Linked DNA regions of Homo sapiens: region 2 is linked to region 1. A link means that fine-mapping ties the variant in region 1 to the expression of a gene that starts in the linked region. Tissue or cell type: blood mononuclear cells. Region 1 holds a variant in brackets; the other region holds the start of a gene. All regions are shown on one strand. Distances are between the middles of the regions.

Region 1 (8,107 bases):
CATGGAGGGGAAGTGGAAGGAGCGGAAAAAGAAAAGGACTTTCCCCTTTAAAATAAATTCCAGCTCACCTGTAAGCCAAACCAAATAAAGACAGTATAGGGATTAAAGCCATGGCCTCTAGCGTCACAAGAAAAAAAAAATACATCTATATTTAAATGTAATGTTGGTTCCTTAGTTGTGAAAAAGTTACCATAGTGATGTAAGACATTAACAACAGAGGAGTCTGGGTGAGAGGTATAGAGACTCTGTATATCTTTGCAACTTTTTGGTAAACCTAAACCTATTCTCAAATGAAAAGTTTACTGCCAGATCAAATTGAAAAGCTTACCAAGCATCTTCCACCAAGAACAATTGGCTATCCACGGACTCTTGTTTATGGTACTGGAAAACATGGCACAAGCTTGCTTGAAAACTCTTTATCGAACAATGACAGGTTTAGACACCCCAGTGCTGATGGTAATTAAAGACAGTGATGGACAGGTTTTTGGTGCGTTAGCAGCTGAGCCATTTAAAGTGAGTGATGGCTTTTATGGTACTGGAGAGACCTTTGTTTTTACATTCTGTCCAGAGTTTGAGGTCTTTAAGTGGACAGGAGATAACATGTTTTTTATCAAAGGAGACATGGATTCACTAGCTTTCGGTGGTGGAGGAGGAGAATTTGCCCTTTGGCTTGATGGAGATCTCTACCATGCAAGAAGCCATTCTTGTAAAACGTTTGGGAATCGTACACTTTCTAAGAAGGAAGATTTCTTTATCCAAGATATTGAAATCTGGGCTTTTGAATAAATACAATGCTCTCTGTCTTAGCAGGAGAATGGCCCAAACCTGACATGGACAAGCATTGTTTGGAAAGTTCAAGAAGCAATACAGTGTAACATGTCACTTGTGCTTTAAAATTGGTCTGTCTCACCATTTATTACAGGTATAATTTTGGAGTTTATTTTTCAAATAATGTTCTTGTCCCAGAGTTCTTTAGGTTAACACTATGGACTGCGTCCATGTACTAGTATAACAGCTTGGGTTTGTTAGAATTTGGGCAACATTTTGATTATAATGACAACTTCATTTTCACATGTTACTCAGTTCCCTAATAGGATGGTGCTCTTTTGTTGAACCTGTATTTTTTTTTTTTAACTATATTGATTCGTTTACTAGAACCATCTAATTGGGGCATTGAGGAAATGAAGACTAGATACTTCTGTATCTGTGAAGTTGGCACAGGTAACATTTGGACATGTTCATCTTATTCTTAGGAAGGAAAAAATCACTTGCCAAAATAATACATACTTCATAGACAAAAAAAAAAAAAAAAAAGACTTGGGTATAACTTTTGGCTTTGCCTGCTGCAAGCTTGTGTTAACCATGAACAAATTACTTATCTTCTCTAAGCCTTGATTTTAGCCAACCATAAAGTGCTTATACAGAGCCTCACTCAAAAAGCTGTTGTGAGGATTAAAGGAGTTAGTGAAGTGCTTGGCACAATGCTCATCATCAAGTTAGCATCTGTAAATTAGTTGTTCTCATGACTGTGCCCACCAAAGGACTGTGCACTTCAGTACTCAAGGGAGAGCATGGTCCCTTCAATCCACCCTGTCTTGATTCTCCAGTACTGTTGATAGCAGAGTCATCTTCACAAACACCCAGGCTCTAAATCCCTTCTCAGTAGGTCCTGGAAGCATGGGTGTGTCATATTCTCAATCTTGTCACCTCTTCATTTCCACCACATCTACCCTGGCTCTGGCCTTGTTCCTTGCCTGACTGTCCTTGGACATTGTCCTCCTGGTTCCTTGGCTGTTTGCTCTGTTCCTCCAAGTCCTCCTATTATATGGCTTCCCTAATCTCTCTAAATCATGCTACCAAAACTTCAACAACTCTCCCTTTTCTATGAACCAAATTTCGAATTCTTTGGCTTTGACATCCAAGACCATCCATGATCATGATCTAGCCTCAATTTACCTATCTCACTATTCTTCATGTACTCTTTTTTTTTTATTATTTATTTTTTTTTTTTTTTAGAGGGAGTTTCGCTTTTTTATCCAGGCTGGAGTGCAATGGCACAATCTCGGCTCACTGCAACCTCTGCCCCCCAGGTTCAAGCAATTCTCCTGCCTCAGCCTCCCGAGTAGCTGGGATTATAGGCGCCCACCACCACACCTGTCTAATTTTTGTATTTTTAGTAGAAACGGGGTTTCACCATGTTGACTAGGCTGGTCTTGAACTCCTGACCTCAGGTGATGGGCCCGCCTCAGTCTCCCAAAGTGCTGGGATTACAGGCGTGAGCCACCGCGCCCGGCCTTCACATACTTTTAAATCTGGTTTACCTGAATCTTTAGGTAATCATATGCCTAAACCTTAATAATAGCAAACACTGAGGCCCAGACAGGCTACAGAAACAGCTAAGACACAGAGCTAATGACAAAGCAGACTTTAGGTCCTTGATGGCATTCTAAGTTTACACTTTGGAAGGACCCAACATCTACCAACATATAACAATGATGGAAAAAGTATATAGAGAAAAAAGACTTTTAAAACACAAAATGTCCCTGAGGACTTGAAAAGTAAGGTACTACCTGTTCTGTATCTAAATGTAGTAAAGGTAGGCCTGGTACGGTGGCTCATGCCTGTAATCCTAGCACTTTGGGAGGCTGAGGTGGGTGGATCACTTGAGGTCAGGAGTTCGAGACCAGCCTGGCCAATATGGTGAAACCCCATCTCTACTAAAAATACAAAAATTAGCCAGGAGTGGTGGTGCGTGTCTGTAGTCCCAGCCACTCAGGAGGCTGAGGCAGGAGAATCGCTTGAACCTGGAGGTGGAGATTGCAGTGAGCCAAGACTGCGTCACTGCACTCCAGCCTGGGCGACACAGTGAGACTCGGCTTAAAAAAAAAAAAAACCAAAAGTAGTAAAGGTGGCCAGGAGTTTCTGCAGAATAATAAGGACTAAAAGCATCCAACTGAGGAAAGGAACAAAGGACAAGCTTGCTGTCTAAAGCAGTAGTCCAGGTAGGGGTTCCTTACCTCAGGGAGGCTGAAAAAGCTACACTCTCCACCTGAGGCCACAAGTTATATTAAAACTATGTATCTAGAGAGCCTAGAGGTTAAAGGCAGAGCTTTGCAGCCAGGAACTGGGCCAAGCTGCCTGCTGGCTCAGTGACTAGCTTTAGAATAGCCCCACTAGATCAGAAATCACCTATGTAAGACCCAGTCTTGGACTGGGTACTATATGGAGCCCATATGGAGGCAACCAAAAGAACTAGACAGTGGTGGGAGAGAACTCAGAAGGAGAAAAAAAATCTTCTTCACTGTTAGACTGCAAGTTAGACTGCAAGCCAAAATTCCACACGCGTGGGGGAAACTAATTCTGTGTAAGGCAAAAACAAACAAACAAAAAGCAACAATTTGGATATGAACTCACTCCCAAGTGACATGATAAATTACTCTAGAAGTAACTTTAAGAATTTCTTAGTCTTTAAAAATATAAATA[C/A]ATAGAATCTATTAGAAAACAAGATTACTAAACAGGTAGAAATTTTACAAAAAGTCTAGGTGTAAAAACACCAACTAGAAATCCCGGAAGTGAAATTTCAAAACTCAATAAATTAAACAAACAAAGACAGAATTAGCAAACTGGAAGATAGTACTTCCAGTGAAAAAAGACCTCCACAAAGTAGCACAGAAAAATAAAAGTATACAAAAGAACAATGAAGAGAAACGAGGATGGGGCTATGTCTAAGAGAAGTTCCAGAAGCAGGAAACAGAAGGAATGGTGGAGTTAGAGTGGCTTCCTTCTAATCTTTACCCAAATGTTACCATCTCAGCGTGACCAACCCTCACTATTCTATTTAAATTTGTAACCACTCCCTCTTTACTCCTCTTTTTACCCTTACCTGCCCTTATTTTCTCCATAGCACTTACCAACTTCTAACATACTACATAAGTTATGTGTATTTACTGTCTCCCCTGACTAGAGTGTGAACCATGAAGGTAGAAACTCATGTTTTGATAAGCATTGTATCACCCTAGAACATTAACAATCAGTTGTTGACACCTCATAAATATTTGTTTAATGAATAGCTATTGGCTGAGCATTTTTCATAATCGAAGAAAAGTGGTAAGTCCTCAGCTTGAAGGTGAACAGCAAAGATCTAAAAAAAAGTTATAACACATTATTGTCACAATTAGGGCAATTTGAATATAGAATGTATGTATGTTGGCTGGGCACAGTGGCTCACGCCTGTAATCTCAACACTTTCGAAGGCTAAGGTGGGAGGATTGCTTGAGCCCAGGAGTTTGAGACCAGCCCAGGCAACATAGCGAGACACTGTGTCTACAAAAATATTTAAAAATTAGCCAAGTGCAGTGCTGTGTACCTGTAGTCCCAGCTATTCAAGAGGCTGAGCGGGGAGGATCATTTGAACCCAACAGTTGAAGTCTCGGTTCAGTTGCAGTGATTTGAGCAACTGCTCTCCAGCCTGGGTGACAGAGCAAGATCCCATCTCCTAAATAAAAAAAATTTTTTAAGTGTATATGTATATAAATATTTATCAATATTCAATGTCCTAAATATGACAATTGTATTTAAGAAATAAAATGTTTTTGTTCTTAGAAAATGTATGCTGAAGTATTTAGGAAGGAATACTCAGGGTGTCTGCAAATAATCTTCATGGTTAAGGAAAAATGTTTTTATATACATGTACATACTATGTACATGCATACATATGTATATTTACAGACAAATATAAAACAAATGTAGAAAGTAAACAATTGGTAAATCTAAATGCAGGGTATATAGGTGTTTATTTTCTACAGATTATGAAGATTTTCAATATAAAAAGTTGGGGAAAATAAAGAAAAAATTAATAAATACACAGAAAAGAGATTACTCCAGTACGTAACAAATAAATAAAAATAAGGAAATTTCTGGTGATACTGGAGTGAAGAAGCTCCCCACCGGCCCCCCCCAAAAAAAATTACTACAAAACTGAAAAAAGAAGAAAAACAACCATTTCAGGGCTCCAAAAATCAACCAAAGGGAAACAACCAAAATTGAGAAGCTGCTGAACTTTGGAAGATCAGTGAGACTCTGAGGCGTTCTTACCAGGGGCTGCTCCCATTCCGCTCCCCAGCTTGATCAGTGAGGTAGTGCTAACAGTGTAGGAATGACAGTGAACATTAGCAGCCTCTCTGCTACAGTGGGCTCACTTGATTTGGAGTAGAAGGAAAGGAGCCCATGCCCAGTAGTAGGGTTAGTTAAAAACAGTAAAGTTAGAGGGACAAAAACAGGGAAGATGCATAGCTCCGCTAGTCTGAGATTGCAGTCCCATTTGGGGCAAGAGATGGGCAGACTAATTTTTAAATTAACAGGAAGAAAGTCTAGAAATGAGGGGCTAAATAAGCTCTCCGCATATCTCTGCTGGAGTGGGAGGCTGTGTGCATATGTAGGGAAAACCTAAGAAAGCCCATGCTCACCACATATCCCTGAACTAATGAGGATGTGCACATGAGCAGGAAGACCTGGAAGCGCTCAGAGGGAAGCAAAGTGGAGGAAGACTGGAAAATTGCCTGAACATTGAATGCACAGACACATCAGCATAGGATGAAGACCTACTGACTCAAGGTTTTTCAATACAGCCTTCAACCAATAATTGAATAATCATTAAGCAATACAGATGCATAGAAATCCCCTAAAATGACCAGCTAAAAACTAGAAATGCAAATTAAAACAACAGTGGAGAAATCAGCAGGCACACACCATAGAGGATTTTGCAGATAAAGTCTAAGCAAATAATGAAACAACACAACAATAATAATAAACCAGCAATAACAACCCCCAGGGGAACAAATACCAAATCCAGAGTTGCCACAATATGTTACGTAAAATTTCCAGTTTTCAACAAATTTATAGCGTATGTAAAGAAACAGAAAGTCTGATTTATATCAAAGAAAAAAGCTGTCAAGAAAAACTATGCATGTGCTTGGATGTTGAATAAAGACTAAAAGTCACAAAAGGACAAATACTGCATGATTTCACTTACATGAGATTTCTAAAATAGTCAAACTCACAGAAACAGAATAGAAGGGGGCTGTCAGGGGAAATGGGGAGTTACTGTTCAACAGGTATAATGTTTTAGTTACTCAAGATGAAAACGTTCTAGAGATCTGATGTAAAACACTGTATGTATAGTTAACAACACTGTATTGTGCACTTAAAAATTTGTTGAGTATATCTTACCTTCCTGTGTTCTTACCAGACAAAAAATATTTACCAGAAAAATATATGGAAAAGAAAAAAATAAGATGAAAATATGATGACAATGACTCAACAGGGAATATTGTATTATAGTTGCTATTTTAAAATAGTCACGTTTTTCCTGACGAAAACGAGCAATGGGGAAAGGATCTCCTATTCAGTAAATGGTGCTGGGAGAACTGGCTAGCCATATGCAGAAAACTGAAACTGGACCCCTTCCTTACACCTTATACAAAAATTAACTCAAGATGGATTAAAGACTTAAATGTAAAACCCAAAACCATAAAAACCCTAGAAGAAAACCTAGGCAATACCATTTAGGACATAGGCATAGGAAAAGACTTTATGACAAAAACGCCAAAAGCAATTGCAACAAAAACCAGAATTGACAAATGGGATCTAATTAAGCTAAAGAGCTTCTGCACAGCAAAATAAACTATCATCAGAGTGAACAGGCAACCTACAGAATGGGAGAAAACTTTTGCAATCTACCCATCTGACAAAGGTCTAATATCCAGATTTACAAGGAACTTAAACAACCCCAACAAGAAACAAACAACCCCAACAAAAAGTGGGCAAAGGACATGAACAGACACTTCTAAAAAGGAGACATTTATGTGACCAACAAACATATGAAAAAAGCTCAACATCACTGGTCATTAGAGAAATGCAAATCAAAACCACAATGAGATACCATCTCACGCCAATCATCTCACGTGATTATTAAAAAGTCAGGAAACAATAGTTGCTGGCGAGGTTGAGGAGAAATAGGAATGCTTTTCCACTGTTGGTGGGAATGTAAATTAGTTCAACCATTGTGGAAGACAGTATGGCGATTCCTCAAGGATCTGGAAACAGAAATACCATCTGACCAGGCAATCCCATTACTGGGTATATAGTCAAAGGATTATGAATCAATCTGCTATAAATACACATGCACACGTATGTTTCCTGCAGCACTATTTACAATAGCAAAGACATGGAACCAACTCAAATGCCCATTAATGATAGACTAGATAAAGAAAATGTGGTACATACACACCATGGAATACTATGCAGCCATAAAAAAGAATGAGATCATGTCCTTTGCAAGGGATGTGGATGAAGCTAGAAGCCATCATCCTCAGCAAACTATCACAGGAACAGGAAACAAAACACTGCATGTTCTCACTCATAAGTGAGTGAGAACATTGGGAGCTGAACATTGGGAACACATGGACACAGAGAGGGGAACAACACACACCAGGGCCTGTTGGGGGTTTGGGGTGAGGGGAGGGAACTTAAGAGGATGGGTCAATAGGTGCAGCAAACCACCATGGCACACATATACCTAGGTAACAAATCTGCATGTTCTGCACATGTATTTTTTTTTTTTAGAGTAAAGGAAAAAAAAAGAATACATGATCAATGATGAATCTCTGGTTAAAAAAAAAGTCATGCTTTTAATTCTTTAAACATTTTACCTTAATTTTTAAAACACATTTGTAATAGCTGCTTTGTAGCTATTTTTAAACAAGTAACTATTAAAGAGCCAAATGTGGCCAGGTCTGGTGGCTCATGCTTAAAATTTCAGCACTTTGGGAGGCCAGGAGTTCGAGATCAGCCTGGGCAACATGGTGAGATCCCTTACTTATAATTAAAAAAAAAAAATTAGCCAGGCATGGTGGCATACACCTGTAGTCCCAGCTACTTGGGAGGCTGAGCGGGGAGGATCACTTGAGCCCAGGAGTTCAAGGCTGCCATGACTGCACCACTGTACTCCAGCCTGGGAGACAGAGTGATATACTGTCTTAAAATATATACATACATATATATAAAATGATGTTTTTGTATCCATTAACCAACCACTCTAGTATAGTAG
Region 2 (8,107 bases), 83 kb after region 1:
ATAAGTTTTCCTTATCAGAACTATAAACTATAAAAGACTTTAAGAAATGATTTCAGACATAAAGGGAAACCTGATCAACTTAATGTGGTTAAAAATATATATAGTAAAAAGGTAATACATATTTTAAATGAGACTTAAAATAAAAGCTAATACCTTAACTTATTAATCACCACTCATTATCACTGCTACCAGAGACTTTAGTATAATATTCAGAACAACAAAAGAGACTTCTTTAAAAAAAAAAAATAGCAAGATAGTAAATCCAAAAGCCATAAAGAAAAATGTGATGGAAACCTAACCACAAAAAATAAAATTTTGTTTAAGGCAAAAGACATCATTAACGAGTCAAATATTATATATGAAAAAATACATCAATAACAAAGTCAAGAAAAATAAGAATAAAAAAAATTTGCAAAGCACCTGACAAAGTCCCAATATAAAATTATTACAAAGAAATGAGAAAAAGACAATCCAATATAAAATTGGGCGACTGACATGACAATTTATTTTAAAAAGTGTAAATCAATTAGTTTGAAAAGATGCTTAAGCTCGTGATGTTTCAAAGAAGTGTCATTTAAACAATATGCCATTTTCAACCACTAGATTGAAAAAACAAACAAACAAAAAAAAAACTTGTTATCACCCAGTGGTGACTATTTTGTATTTTGTATGGCTCATGAGTTGCTGGTGAAAATATCAACTGCTAAACCATCTTGAAAACTATCAATATTAATATATTGAAAATTAACATTTACACTAGTAAAATTATTTTGAATTAATTTGTCAATACTATGCCACTAGTAAAAATACTGAAAATTTTCTATATCTATTGACTCAAGGCTGACCACTTGAGAAATCAAGATGCAGATTAAGTATACAGTATGTTTTGGTTTTCTTCTTCAATAGCAGTCTGGTAGACTTTCTTCCTAGATAACTTTTTCTGAACCCTTAACAAGACTATAAAAAGTATGTCTTGTTGTTACACTCAGATGGATGCTCTGACCCAGCATTCCTTTTGTTGTCCCCGGTTGTTTTCTCTGCCCTCCTTGCAACAAAAGCAATGGGTATTTGGACAAAAGATTACAAAGCAAAAGTAGCATTGTTTTTGCTTCATCTAATAAACTATAAGCACCCTGAAGGCAGAATTAAAATGTATCTGCCTGCTTGCACATGGTGGGTACATAACAAATATTTGTTGACTGAATATGATATAGGCATGTTACCTTATACGAATTCATTACTTCAATAAAATTTTATTGAATACCCACTGTGTTCCAGATCATATCCTAGATGCACCTAAGACATGGTACCAGCCATGAGGAGCTCACTGTCTCTGCTCACCCTCTCTTAGATAGAGCCACTGATATAAACAGTTACAATAACATATTGTAATAAATTCCGTAGTAGATGAAAGTACAAAGCACAAATTACTTTTCCTAAGAAGAAAGGATAGTTTAGAGAAGTTTTACAGAAAAAAAAGAGCTTTTAGATTAGAAATAAATCTTAAAGGACACAATATGGCTATAAGTGGTTCTAAGAATGAGGGCACTCATTCAGACAACCTGGGCTCAATTCTGGCTCTTCTATTTATCAGCAGTGCAATCTTGAGCAAACTGTTTCTGCTTCTACGTTAAAGAAATGGGGGTAAAAATAATACCTACTTCAAAGATTGATTCTGAGGATTCACAAGATACTACATGTAAAGTAATTAGCACTATGTACCAATCAATACATTGTAGTTTTATTACTATTATGACATTATTACTGATGAATAGGAGTCTGCCAGCTACCGAAGAGGTTTAGGGAATAAAGAGGATTCCGCATATCTGAGAAAAGGTGAATGTGCAGCCTATGAGAAATGTCACTTCTAATAATGCAACCTCCTATGGAACAAAAATGCCACCCTCCTTCAAGATGCCCTCCCAAGCCTGTTCCCCCATGGAGCTGGCCACTCCTTTGCACTTTCAGACTGTATTTCTTATGCTTTTCTTATGGCTTCAACTTCAGCTTCTCTTTAGTTGAGTGCATTCACCTGTCTAGGGAGTGCATGTTCATTGTCACGCACTATGAAGGTATAAGGTGATAATAGGCTTAAATCAGACTCAAGTTCATGACTACGATATAGGAAGGGTTATAAACCCCCACAAAAGGGGTTTCTAAGAACTGCACTTGGAGTTGGGAAATTCTACTTACTTGCTGACATAACTCGCCTTCTAGAATGGAAATAGCCAGAGCACATAGCCCGGTTTAGACTTGCAACACCTGGTGGAGACACCTTATTCATTCATTCGACAATTTACCAAGCACTGTTCAAGATTACAAAGTTTAACAGGACACGATGAAGGGAAAGAAAATAGACATATAAACAAATGATCACAACATCTTGTGATCAGTGCTAATAACAGCACTTTGGACAAATTGATTCAAGTTGCCCAGAGGGCGGAGCGAGTAATGCTAATACACAATAAGCATCCACAGGCTGAGCGAATGACCTTGAGGAACTGTTTGGCGTCAGCTACGGCACTACAAACATGACCAAAGCCGCACGGGGCCCAGGATGCCCGGGGCTACTGGCTTCGGGTGCCAGCGTCACTTGTACTCGGTCAACACACGTGCACAGAGCACCTACTGTGAGCCAGGCGTGACGCCAGGGTGACCAAGGCGGGGTCCGCAGAGTAGGGTCTCAGGGCGACCCCAGCAGCCTGGAAACGAGGCGGGCTTCCCATATGTCACTTCTAAGTAGGATATTGGAGGAATGAAGAGGTCTAAATGACACGTTAAGGTAAAAGCTGAGCCCGCAACATGCGGGCAGTCCACCACCGCGGGATTTGGGGAGGGGGCAGGTCAGCCCCCCCAGGAACCCTCAGCCAGCATCCCGAGGACCCCGCAACTCCTCTAACCCCAGGTCCAAGCTCACCCGTGAATCAGAACTTACCGGAGGCCACGGAGGCTGTTACCGCGAGGAAACTCTAGTCCTGGCGGAAGACCAACTTCTAGCAGATCCCCTTACCCTGGCTCTAGTCCACTAGCTCCTTCCTAGTCACAACCGAACTCACGGGGCGGAGGCCCTTAAGGAGCACTCGCATCCTTCAATCGCCGACTAGAAGCTCGCCCGGTGGGCGGAGCCGTGCCAGCTCAGGGCAGAGCGAGGAGGCAGAAGTCTCCGCCTTCCTCAAGCTTGGTTGAGAAGTCCACCTGCAGTTGCAAAGTACGGCTGTTTGAAAGCGGGCGCCAGAGGTGGCGGGAAGCTCCCCCTGTGCGCCCATTGGTGGATTCGAGAGCCAATTACGAGGAAGTCACCCCGGAGTGGGCGGGCTGATCGGTTGCCTAGAGACGCCGAGGCGCTTCACCCGCTACCTTCGGCCAGGGTGCAGCAGTCTTACGGGGACCCCTTGCCCGTTTGGTACCGGAGACTGCAAAGGTGACTCGTGCCTCCTGCGCTTCAGCACACAGAATCCCGCAGATTCCCCACCGAACTCTTGCCTTAGAGGTTTTTTACATTTGCCCTTGTTTTCTAAGGCGCCTGCTTCCCCATTATTTAACAGCCTTAGATATTTTGCTTTGTCTTCTACCTTACTAGGTGCCGCTTTGTTTACATTTTTGCTTCTTTAATTACTGATAAGATGGCACATTTTTCCACGTGTCTATTTACTACTCTAATTTCCTCGGGTGTGAGTGTTCTTGTCACTTAGGTGTATATTATTAACCTGCCCCTAAAGACAGCGCCACCCAGTCCTCAGTAAAGCCCAGTACTGTGTCTATCTTCTCTGGCTGAAAGGGTTCCAGTGAATAATCAAGGAATTGGTGGCGGCAGGTTCACATATCCTTTCAACCCTTTCCCATGTGTACTGGCACGGAGTAAAATGGTTGTTCGAGGCTCTTCATACTGTGGCTGGTTTTCCTTTGCTACTTCACCGTCCGCCCCCATGATGCCTACACTGACCCCTGTAACCCCATAAACTGGTATAGGGTTTGGCAAACAACAGGTAATTTAACCCACTGTAATAGAATGAACGAAATCACAGCCTGAGCTAACAATGGTTCCCAGAGCGCTTTTTTTCTTTCACCTGCTGTGAAAGCTGTTTCTTTCACCTGCATCGCCTCTACCTTCTCCTGCTACTTAGTTTTGAAGACAGACTAGCACCTCCTTTGAAGCCTTTCATGACACACACTCCCTCACTTCGCAAAAATGATCTTTCCTACCTCTGTACACAGTGTATCCTATATATCCTATTATAGTTCTTTTATCTACTGTAAGTTTTTGTGTGTCTTACACTCAGTACAACGTGAATATCTTGAAGTACTCACTTTACTTCTTGGGTGTCTAACATGACCCTGGTAGGCACTCAAAACAATTATGTTAAATGAGTAAATGAATAAATGAACAAATAGATGAAGATTTTGGCAGGGGGGCAGGCAGAAAAAGCAAATAAAAGGCCTTCAAGTAAATGGCATTTGTTGAATCTGAGCCAAGGCATCTTAGTGAGAATTAAATGCACTTTTCACTTTTCACATCCCACTGAAGTCGATTGGCAAACTGTATGTTGCATTCTGTGCTGAGGGTTATGATGGAGTGCTGCAGCAAGAATGCCAGGTGATCCCCATGCACAAACAACTGCTTCTTAGAAGGATGAAAGCATAAAACGTGTCAGGGTAAGCACATGAGGAGGCAGTGTTTATAATCCATTACACAGTGCTTTACAGATTGGTAAATTCTTTCACAAGCATCATCTCATTTGGTTCTCACTACAACACTGTGGGGGGTTAGGACAGGTATTCCTACCCATTTTCCAGTTGAAGAAACTTACATAAAAATAAATTAAATGACTTGTCCAAGGCTACACAGCTAATACAAGGCAGACAGAATCTGAAACCAGGTCCTTTATCTCCAAACCCAGAGCTCATCACTACATACAAAATATTTTAGTGAGACTAGCATATACGTGACAAAGAGGGAAAATAAAGAATAAATCAACCTCCCATCCTGCCATGCCTCTAAAAATGGTTTTTGGTGGAGTTATGGATATATTCAACTAAATTTCTTTGACCACCTATCCTGTTTAAGTCCTGGCCTAGGTGCAGGGTAGGACCCCTATGCTCAAGGTACCAACACTCTGAGTTACAAGATGCTTACGTAGAAAGATAAATAATAATAAAAATTGTTTACTAAGTGTAATAAGAGTAGAATAGGCAATAATTCTAGGGAAAGTGAACACCTAAAGATGAATCTATCAAGGCAGGTTCAAGGAAGAAGAGAAGGAGAGAGCTCAACAGGTCAGTTGATTAGCATGAGTGCAATTTAAAGGCCAGACCAGCAAAAGTGCAGGAATCTTACATTTAGATGTAAGTCTGGAGAAGAAGGCAGGAAGGAGGTGGTCCATAGAAGAGCTTTAAGCCTGGGAGAATAGGAAGGGCATTCTACAGAGGTCAGGTAATGGTGTGCACAAGGAATGAATCTAACATCCAAAGAAACACAAGCAGACAGAGGCATTCTGGGATAAGAAAGGCAAGTGTGGGAGAAGAAAGTAAAACTGCCAAAGATCTCAAATGCTGGACAAAAGATTATTTGTGAAACGTTGGCTCGATGTTTACCTTGCATGTTTTAAATGGGCACACCTATGAGCTGGGTGAGACATTTCAAGAGAAAATGTCACATTGTTGATGAGATGGGGTCCCTCCCACTAACAAGCATTTATAAAGGTAAAGCTAAACCATTATTTCTCCTTTTTCCTCCTTTTTGGTGTCAAAGCTATCAGGTCAAAGCAATGTCATCACAGGAGTGCTATCCAAAGTGCTATCATCAAGGAGTACTATCTTCAAAGGAACACAGAACTTAGAGTAAGAAGATCTGAGTTCAAGTCCCAGTTCTCCTACCTACTAGCATTGTCCATAACAATTTAACACTCAAAAGCCTCAAAGTCCTTATCTGAAAATAGGGATGATAATACCCACTTCTCAGGATTGTGGCCAAAAAAAAATGAGATGAGATTGTGAGAAACAGCTTTTAAATGTAAAAACATTATTTTCCATTGTGTTTCTATGTACTATGGCTTATTGGATTAGAGTACACACTGGGGTCTGAGGTAGTAAGGAAAAACCAGGAAGGTGTTCTGGGAGTGGATGGCAGAGAAAGACAAGGGTGAATGTGTGCCGAGGGCAACAGGAGCTTATGGGATGGGACAAACAAAGAGTCTACACAAAGGATATGGCTTCATGAGAACAGGACAAAAATAGGAAGTGCTAGAGATGGAACAGGAGTACTTGGAAAGAACCAAGGAAGATCAGACCATTATTTACATCTTATTCAACAGTATTTTGGGAACACCTACTTTGTGCCAAACACTGTGCTGGGATCATTTAATATTGACATGTGGATCAAAATGCCCACTCTGCTCAAGTCCCTTCTCACAGAATCTGCTCCTGCTCACAGTCATTATGACCTCACCACCATCACCATCCTACCACCCACGGTCCTGGCCAGACTTGACTGAATCAAAGGGGAACACTAGACCCAAGCTGGGCCAATCGTATTCCCTTCCCAGATAACTAAGATTCCACAAAACTGAGCAAGGTGGTAGCCATACAGAGGAGAAGCAGACTTTTATTACACTTGCCTGTATTTTATGGGAAATATGCTTCCTCCATAACTGTGTCATATACATGGTAGACCCTAGACTGAAGATCATGAACTTTTGCCACTGAAAGCCATGTATCTGTCTGGTTCCTGTACTTTGAAAAGCCAGACAGTTTAGCTTTTCCTTGCATTCTGTGATAACTAAACCTTAAAAACTTTTTGACTTGAGCTGGCTTGGGTCATTGTAGAGGTTGAATCATGTTCCCTAAAATTTCATGTCCACCTAGAACTTCAGAATGTGACTTTATTTGGAAATATGGTTTTTGCTGATACAATTGTTTAATATGAGCTCATTCGGGATTAAACTTAGGTAAAGCTAAACCATCATTTCTCCCTTTTCCTCTTTTTTGGTGTCAAAGCTATCAGGTTAAAGCAATGTCATCACAGAAGTGCTATGCAAAGTGCTATCAGCCTTAAGTCTAATGACTGGTGTCTTCATAAGAAGAGAGGACACAAAGAGACACATAGGGAGAAGACAGCCATGTGAGGGTAAAGGTGGTGATTGGGGTTAGATTGCCATAGGCCAAGGAACGTCTGGGGCCACCAGATGCTGGAAGAGACAAGAAAGGATTTTTCCCTAGAGCCTTTGGAGGGAGCATGGCCCTACCACATCTTGATTTCAGACTTCTATCTTCCAGAACTGTGAGAGAATAAACTTCTGTTGTTTGCGGTATTGGTTACAGTAGCCCTAAGAAGTTAATAAAGGTAGGTTTACATTCTTGGCAACCAAACATTCATGACTAAGATACATTTTTAGTGATTATATTTGAAAAGTCTAGACCAGTGATACTCCAAATAGGGCCATGGTCCACTGGTATACCTCATTTGTATTAAATGATACAAATGCCCAAGGCATTTCTTCAATTATCATAGGAAAATAATTTGTAGATTTTTATTTTTACATACAATTAGAAATCCACCAAGTAAGATATAGGAAGTTACTAATGTTAAGAATTTGTAAATTAAAATGAGTGCATTTTTCGGGTTTATCAAGAATGATCATCATTTGGATGTGCAATATTACAAAGCTCTTGCTCATGCACAGTTGAAGGTAATTGGAATTCCCAGTTTTGGAAGGAGGATGTTAATAGCACCATTCCCCCAGGAAGTCATGGTCTTTACGAGCTGTTATTACTGTTTATTTATTAACTATGTTTGGCTTCATCAATATCAAGTAAGCTTATTGTGAGTTGTTTGATTAAACCAACTCTATGTAGTGTTAACTACTTTAAATATTTTCACTTTTTCTATAGCGACTTTAAAATAATATACATTTGGGTGGGGCGCCATGGCTCATGTCTGTAATCCCAGCACTTTGGGAGGCTAAGCCCGGCAGATCACCTGAGGTCAGGAGTTTGAGACCAACCCAGGCAACATGGCGAAACCCCGTCTCTACCAAAAATATAAAAATTAGCAAGGCGTGGTGGCACATGCCTGTAGTCCCAGCTACTTGGGAGACTGAGGGAGGAGAAT

Evidence for each region. PIP is the estimated chance that this variant, and not a neighbour inherited with it, causes the effect.
Region 2: it holds the start of CEP152, and the variant in region 1 is fine-mapped to the expression of CEP152 in blood mononuclear cells (TOPMed, PIP above 0.99).

Annotation. Positions count from the first base shown.
Region 1 is chr15:48,725,046-48,733,152 of GRCh38, forward strand. It overlaps the pseudogene LOC645405 and a transcript of CEP152 not described here. Among named protein-coding and RNA genes, the nearest start is that of CEP152, 82 kb to the right of the region's middle. The variant C/A (reference allele first, on the strand shown) is at 3,484.
Region 2 is chr15:48,808,026-48,816,132 of GRCh38, forward strand. CEP152 (centrosomal protein 152) reads right to left here and starts at 3,044. Exons shown (of 27, transcript NM_001194998.2): 1 at 2,936-3,044. It overlaps LOC124903487 (a long non-coding RNA gene), which reads left to right and starts at 2,673. Exons shown (of 2, transcript XR_007064626.1): 1 at 2,673-2,782; 2 at 2,906-3,884. RefSeq lists enhancers at 2,194-2,755, 3,414-3,473 and a silencer at 3,048-3,238.